Regions from separate parts of the Homo sapiens genome. Here region 1 is linked to region 2. Evidence: fine-mapped expression QTL. Tissue or cell type: whole blood. Region 2 holds a variant in brackets; the other region holds the start of a gene. All regions are shown on one strand. Distances are between the middles of the regions.

Region 1 (4,162 bases), 35 kb after region 2:
AAAAATAAAGAAGGTATGTAAAAGTGCCTTGTTTGTAACTTTGTGCCTGACACAAAATAATGTCTCAAAACAGCAGCCGATGCCCAGCCTCCGGCCACTGCTGCAGCCTGTGTCTCTCCTGGGTGATACACGTGACCTGTTTCAGGGAGTCTGCTAGTGCAGAGACATGGAAGGGGGCTGTGGGGAACACAGTGGAGCAAGTTTCAGGAAGCCCGGATTCTCCACCTAGTCTTATCATAAATACCTGGGGCAAAACCCTTCTCTCTGCAGCACGGTTTCCAGGCCGAGTCCCACTTCATTCACAGGGCTTGGAGGAAGATGGGAAGAGGCAGGAGGTGGAGCAAAGCAGAACAAACAGAAAAGTGCCCAGGAATCCAGCCCAGTAAGGGGCGGGGAACAGGCCCGGCGGAACAACCCCTTCCCTAGCAAACCACCCACTCAGGCAACCACCAGGTTCACCCAGGCGACCTGGCGCAAGGGATCCCTCTAGTGGACGCCGGCCATTTTTTGGGTGAGTTTCTGGAGTCTTACATCAGAATGTTAAAGCCACTATTTTCGTTGTTGTTTCTTTTTTGTTTGTTGTTTTGTTTTGTGTTGAGATGGAGTCTCGCTCTGTTGCCCGGGCTGGAGTGCAATGGCGCAGTCTCGGCTCACTGCAACCTCTGCCTCCCGGATTCAAGCGATTCTCGTGCCTCAGCCTCCCCAGCAGTTGGGATTACAGGCGTCCGCCATCATGCCCAGCTATTTTTTGTATTTTTAGTAGAGAAAGGGTTTCGCTATGTTGGCCAGGCTGGTCTCGAACTCCTGACCTCAAGTGATCTGCCCACCTCGGCCTCCTAAGATGCTGGGATTACAGGCGTGAGCCACTGCGCCTGGCCTTATTTATTTATTTATTTATTTATTTATTTATTTATTTATTTATTTTAGGTTACCACTTAAGAGCGTTTACGAGGTAACAAGCAGTTACCATTCTTTATGCATAGACAGCAGTTCTCCATTCTTTATGTTATTGGAGAATACGCCTTAGCCCCATTTTGCAGATGAAAAGGTGCAGAGCGTGAAGGCTTGCCCAAGCTCACTCATCCTCTCCACTCTCAACAGAAGTGCAGGCAAACTCATCGGACAAGCTCTAATCAATGCTATCAGCTCTGAGAAAGCGGCCTTGCGGCCTGGAGGCAGCGGTTTTTCAGAGCCCGTGCAGGTAGAGGCGCCCAGTGTGGATCTCACGTCGCGCTGGGAAAGGCCTGAGCCCAAGGCTGGGTTCTCCTGCCTCCCCTGCTCACCAGCTGTGTTGCCTTGGGCATCTTCCTCACCAGGTGCTTTGAATCTCTCATCCTCACAAGCACTCTATAAGGCAGCTAGGACCCCCATTTTCCAGACACGCATCTGAAGCTCAGAATGGTCGAGTAACTTGCCCAGAGTCACACGGCTGCTGGGCTTCTATCCCTGGTCCGCCTGACCCCCACCCCCACCCCCACAAAGCCTGTATCTGTTTTCACTCGACCCTAATCTCTCTCCTCTGTAGAGGAATAGCAGTAAACCACACTAATTACCAATTCCCGTCTCAGGGGCCAGGCCTCTGCCAACGCCCTGTTATCTTTGAGCCTCAGTTTCCCCGGCTGCAAAGTGTAAGATGAAAGCGCAAGCGGCCCAGTTCCGGCTTCTGTCTGTCCGCCTGCTTGTCCGTCGGTCCTTCCCCTCCCGCCCCATCCCCGGGGCTCACCGTCCGCGGGCTGCTGGAAGTTGATGTAGGCGTAGCCCAGCGAGCGCCGGGTGGCTACATCGCGGCACACGCGGATGGACAGGATGGGGCCGGCGGGAGAGAACTTCTCATAGAGCATGGCCTCGGTCACGTCGGGGTGCAGATCGCCCACGTAAAGCGAGGCAAGCGGGTAGCCAGAACCGCTGGCGTTCATGGTGGGCAGGGGGCCGGGGCTGCGGGGCAAGCAGGAGCCGGGTCACCCAGCAGCCCCGCGCTCACCCGGGCGGAAGCCCTCCTTCCTGGGCGCGGGCCCGCCCCTTCCCTTTACCGCCCCCGCGTCCCTGCGCACCAATCGTGGGCGCGCTCGGACGCCCCTCCCCCGGGATCCCTCCTGGGCCCACCCCCCACCTGCGAGCACTTGGGGATCTAAAAGCTACAGGTGGGGACACCTCTGACCCCGCCCTGGGAGGCGGAAAAAGCCTTCAACCTGGCCTTGAGCAGGGCTGCTGGGACTTGAGTGGAGCTCTCAAAACCCCCAGCTCTTTTGAAAGAGCCGAGGACTGGGACGGAAAGGACGCAGGGGACTGAGTTCTAACCCCGGAACAGATGATCATCTTTCTGAACCCGTTTCCCTTCTCTGTAAAATGGGAATGATTCCCTCCTGACAAGAATGAAAGGAGACCCAAACCGCGCTTTTTGCGTTTCACACACAAACGGAATTCCGAACAGGCCACTGTTTCAAAGCTTGTGTAGAGAATTTTACCCTGCTCCATTGAAGATGTCTTCCTCCAGAGAGCCTGATCCAGTCCCACCGTTTCGCACCAAGGATGGAAATGGCTTTGAGACATGAGAACTGGAGACCACTAAGGCCTTTCTTGGTACTGGCTCATATTACCAAGACCCCTTTTCCTGGGATATTCCCTGTCCCTCTGCTAAGCCATTACACATCCATTACACCAGGGAGGTTCACTGAGTTACTTGTGGCTCAGCCTAAATGCGGACAATTGGGAACTAATAGCAGAGCAAGACCTAAACAGAGCAAGACTGTGAATCTGAGCTTGCAGCGTCAATCTGTGGTATAGGGACATTAAAAACAACACAAAAACAAAACAACTACTCCACTGAGCACCAATACTTCACTTTTCCTCTGATAGGACTTTCCTGGTCTCACTGATCCAACAGAGCAGGTAGGCCCCCACTGACTTTTGGTTGAGTGTGGCTTCAACAGGTGGAACAGCTCCTAAACTAGGGACAGAAGGTGCCCATCTGGCTGTCCAGCCTCAGAGTAGCAAGGAAGCACTAATTCTAATCTTGGGCTAAAAAAGACCCCTCTATCCTGATATTTTTCTCTCCTTGTGGTAATGTGGATGTTTTCAGAAGGGGCAAATCCTGTGAGGAACCAGCTCTGCAGGCCACCATACAGTGTGAGGACAGGTGAGACGCCAGCTTGGTGATGACCAAGACTTATGCAACCATAGGTTACCTATTTCACTGGCTTGGTTGTATCTCAGAGTTAAAAAATGGGGAAGGGATGGTGGGCTCGAATACAATGCAAAATAACTGTCCATACCAAATCTTAGAAGTCACTAAAGAGGACCTAATACCTGCATGGTTTGTTGTGGAAGGTAGAGAGGTATCAAGTAACGGGTGTAAAGAGGCTGTTTAATTAATGGTAATTTCTTCCCCTGGATAACACCTTGACTTCTGGTCCTAAATAATGAAATAAAACTGTTTGCCTATTTTTAAAGAAAACAGAGTTAAAAATAAGTGTGATCAGAATAGTTAGCTAGGTCTGGTAACAACAGAGATGGTGGTGACACATCAATTCACAGGCAACTAACTGATAAAATTTTTATTTCACTTTTGAATTTTTACACTTTTCCTGATTATTCTGTGTAAGGTGAAACTAGAACTGTTTAAAAGACATACACAAATCTAGTACATCAATAACCGGGGATTTTTCTTTTTTGCTATACTATTTTCACAACCACGGGTGTGCTTGCTAGGCAATATAACCATCACAGAAGCAAACGTTAGGCAGAATACTGGTAAGAAAAAACAAAGCAAGAAAAGAGCTACCAGATATACAGACAGGCTTGGTTCCACATTCACTACTGCATTTTCAAGCGCCAAGTATTAACTGCACATTTTTGTTCAGCTAGAAAGGAGGGATTTTTTTTTTTGTTTTTTTCTTTTTTTTTGGTTTGTTTTAAATCAGTGCATAAATTTTTCTTTTCTCATTTCAGCAGATGGACAAACAGATGGACTCTACAGCTAAGTGGAATATCAAAGGTAGAGGGGTGATTCTGTGAGACTGATAGGCCTGACTATTCTCAATTCTCCCCACTGCAGTGTTCACGCAACTTCCCTGAATATAGGGTCTCCTTAAACACATCTGAGCACTGACCTGGATGAGTGCACTTGGGAGACCTGGTGACAGGCACAAAAAGCATGATCAGG
Region 2 (4,162 bases):
TAATATGGTCTGAATTATGTAACACCCCAGCAGTGTCTGGGGCAGCTTGCAGAAGTTAATTATTAGTATTTCTGCCAGTGAAACTTGAAAATTCCATGTTCACATGGGGTGGAATAGAGAAACTAAATAGCTTCATGTCAGTTCAGATCAGGTTTTGCTGCCCAATGAGTTGGAAAGAGAACTTGTAGTTTTAAAGCTTATATTTTGGAATTTTGCACCTGTGGTTTTATGTGGTTTTATTGCTGATTGGACCAGAGGGGCCACAATTTGCCAGGCTAATTTGAAAAAGAAGCCTGCAGCCTATTTGTTCCATATTTGTGTGGCATCTTCTAACTCCTCTATCTCTGGACCCTCTTTCACATTGCTTACCTTATGCTGCTGGACACCTCCATTAACTCATTTTTCTGGATCATTACCATATTTGGAGCTGTGTTTTGTCTTGTTTAGATACTGTTCTTCATGCAGGTGTCTGTGCCACACTGTTTTAATTGCTTTTGCTTTATAATATCTTATAGGGCTGGTCTTTTCTTCATTCTTCTTAATCAGAGCATTCCTAGTATTTTCCCATGTTTGTTCTTCTAGCTAAAGCTTCGGATCATTTTGGCAAATTCCAAAAAATGTCTTGTTGGACAGCTTTTGGTTGTGATTGCATTGGATTTATAATTTAATCTAGAGGACTAATGACAAAACAACTTTCAGCCATTGTGGCTAACATTTTATCATGTCCTGGAACGTCTTGGACATAGTCTAATGCTCCACCTCATGTACGCCCATCTGAATGACACAATGCCCAGGCTTTGGCTTACTTTGGCTCCCTTTGTGCAGGTGACATCTGAGTGCATAGCACCTACAACTTGCCAGCCCTGAAACAGCTGTCATAAGAATCTCACTTGTACTCACAACAGTTCTTCAGCTTAGATCATTGTCCTGTGTTACCTAATCAGGCTCAGAAAGATGAATTAGTGACCACAAAGTTAAACAACTAGTACATGGTGGCTGAGATTTAAGCCAGATCTTTGTGACTCCAAAGCTTATTTCCCTTTCACTCACTTGTGTTATTTCCCAACCCCTTTGTAATTAAAACCCTTCTGACTGGATACAGTTACTTCATTTACCAAAAGTCAAGGGGGTTTATTTTATTGCCTGAAGTTATGCATTTTGTTCATCTTAAATATAGTCTTTAGAAGTCTCACATGACCCTATTAATCACATTTCTATTCTGAAGTCACGATACACGGTGGTTCCTCTGCTTCCCAGACACTTGGCTATTTCTTTAAATTGCCAAGCCCATTGGGAGGAAACTTTAATTTCCTTAGAATTCCTCTATGTTTAGAGGTGGCTCATGCCTGTAATCCCAGCACTTTGGGAGGCTGAGGTGGGCAGATTGCTTGAGGTTAGGAGTTTGAGACCAGGCTGGCCAACATGGTGAAACCCCATCTCTACCAAAAAATACAAAAGTTAGCTGGGCATGGTGGCATGCACCTGTAATCCCAGCTACTCGGGAGGCTGAAGTAGGAGAATCGCTTGAACCCAGGAGGCGGAGGTTGCAGTGAGCTGTTATCATGCCACTGCACTCCAGCCTGGGTGACAGAGTGAGACCCTGTCTCCAAAAAAAAAAAGGAATTCTTCTGTGTTCAAAGTTTAAAACGGGCTACTATTCTAAAACTTGGTGATTTACAACAACCATTTTATTTTGCTTGTAATTTGTGGAGTCAGGAATTAGGGAAGGGCAGTTCTCATTTGGGGTCTCTCATGCAGGGTCAGCAAGATGGTAGCTGGGGCTGGAATCCTCTAAAGCCTTCTTCCTCGAATGTCTGGCAGCTGGGCTGCCTGACTCAAATGGCTGGGTGATGGAACTGCTAGAGCAAGCTGGCACCTCTTTCCACTTTCTTAGCAGCCTTTTCATGTGTGCTGCTGTGAGCTTCCTGAGAGCGTGGTGGCCTCAGAGTAGTTGGCTTCTTCCCTGTCAGTTCAAGGCTCCAAGAGCGAGTGTTTCCAGAGACCAAGGTGGAAGCTGCAAGGCCTATTATGACCTAACCTTGGAAGTCACATCGTGTCCCTTCCTCTGTCCTCTGTTGGTCAGAGCAGTCACAGAGCCTGCCCGAATTCAAAGAGAGAGAGCAGATACACCTCCGCCTCTCAGTGGAGGATTGCCAAAGAATTTGTGCCTGTCTTTTAAGTTGTTACAAGAAGATTTTTCTCTCCGTTAATTTATGAATTCCATGCAATCACAAAGGACTAGTAGAATTTTCTTCTTTAAATTCATGATAAGTCAGAAAAAAATGAGAACAACGACATGAGAGAATCTGGTGTATAATAAAGTCTGGGGCAAAGAGAGATTATTTAATAAGAGGTGTTGGGTTGGCCAGGTTAGAGTTAAACTTGAATCCTACCTTGCTTCTTATTTTAAAGTAAGTTCTGAGTGGATCACAGTTTGGAATGTAAAAAGCGAAACCATTAAGTTCTAGAAGAACACATGGATTAACTATCTTGCAGTGGGGAAGGTATTCTTATGTGAAGGGAAAAAAATGTTACAGAAGTCGTTAAAGGAAAAGTTAGAGAAGTTTGAT[T/G]TCAAAAGATTAAAAACCCTTATTAAAGATGTTCAGCTTTACCCACAACTAAGCAGCTAAGGCAGTGAGATAGTGTTTTATTCCATATTGGCATACATGAAAATTTAAGACCCAAAGTTGGTACAGTTGTAGGAAAATAGGCTCTGTCAATAACTATTCAGCTTTTTTGGAAAGCATTTTGGCAGTAACAATCAGATTTTATTTCTTTTTTTGTTTTGTTTTGTTTAAGAGATGGGGTCTCCCTATGTTGCCCAGGCTGGTCTCAAACTCCTGGGCTCAAGTGACCTTCCCACCTTGGCCTCCCAAAGTGCTGGGATTATAAGCATGAGCCACTGCACCTGGCCAGTCAGGTTTTAAAATGCATGTATCTTTGGATACAGCAGTCCCTTGCACAAGGATGTTCATCATGGCATCACTTATTTACAAACTGGAAACAATGAAAAATACCTCTTGATAGGAAATTGGTAAAATAAATTATGCTACATCCAACTTAGTGAATACCCTGCACCCACTGAAAACAGTGAGGTGGAACAGATGAACTTATGTAATGAGCGCCCAGACATCTGACTGTTTTGTTTTTAGTGACTGTCTTTGGAGAGAAGGACTAGATCTGAATGAGGAAGATATATACACACATGCACTTTTTTGAACCCACAGATGCAGAATATATTGTATGGATGCACATAACTTTTTTCCAACATTTTATTATGAAAATGTTCAAAATATAGGAAAGTTGAAAGATTTGTACATTGAACACCCATAGACCTACCATCTAAATTCTACAATTAGTATTATTACATTGCCTTATCACTATTTAGCCATCTGTTGGTCTGTATTATTGTGTTTGATGCACTTAAAAGTAAATTGCAAACGTCTTTACATTTCACCCCATGTCAGCATTATATCATTAGAGTTCAGTAGTTGTTGGGTTTTTTTTTCCCCCTTAAAGTAGATAATTTTTTAATCTGTCAAGGGAAAAGTTTCAGGAAACCTTTTCTTTGCTTGAAAGAGCTCAGTATAGGAGAGCGCAGTACAGCATGATAGAACTAGATGAGATCAGGATCTGGAGTCCCATGAACGAACGCCCGCCTATTTGAATCCTGGGTCTGCCCCTTAATACTGGCGGTACCTGGCCCAAGTTCCTTTACCCTTCTGAGCCAGCATGTTTCATCCATGAAAAGGGCTAGGATTGTTGTGAGGATTTAAGAAGACATAAAGTAACCAGCACAGAGTAGGTGTTCAGCAAATTGGAGATCACTTCTCAAACTACTGCGTGGCATGTGGGTGGCCCATAAGACGTGACTGAAACCTCTGAAATGGTCTTTCCCTTCAGAGCACTCTGCTATTTGGTCCTGAAGCAGTACACAGAAGCAGTGAAGGACTGCACAGAAGCCCTCAAGCTGGATGGAAAGAACGTGAAGGCATTCTACAGACGGGCTCAAGCCCACAAAGCACTCAAGGTAAAAAAAAATCCTGGCCAAAAGGTCCCAACATAGCTACAGAGATTTATGCCAGTGTCACCATTTACAGGGTGTAGCCAAGCTGAGACAATATCTGCAGCTTTTCCTTCTCATCCTGGGCCCAGGATAACT

Evidence for each region. PIP is the estimated chance that this variant, and not a neighbour inherited with it, causes the effect.
Region 1: PABPC1L starts here. The variant in region 2 is fine-mapped to the expression of PABPC1L in whole blood (TOPMed, PIP above 0.99).

The regions. Positions count from the first base shown.
Region 1 is chr20:44,907,898-44,912,059 of GRCh38, reverse strand. It overlaps PABPC1L (poly(A) binding protein cytoplasmic 1 like), which reads right to left and starts at 2,000. Exons shown (of 15, transcript NM_001372179.1): 1 at 1,724-2,000. The coding sequence starts at 1,916. YWHAB (tyrosine 3-monooxygenase/tryptophan 5-monooxygenase activation protein beta) reads right to left here. Exons shown (of 6, transcript NM_139323.4): 6 at 3,528-4,162. RefSeq lists a silencer at 1,817-2,146.
Region 2 is chr20:44,943,321-44,947,482 of GRCh38, reverse strand. It overlaps TOMM34 (translocase of outer mitochondrial membrane 34), which reads left to right. Exons shown (of 7, transcript NM_006809.5): 6 at 3,904-4,030. Among named protein-coding and RNA genes, the nearest start is that of TOMM34, 15 kb to the left of the region's middle. The variant T/G (reference allele first, on the strand shown) is at 2,571.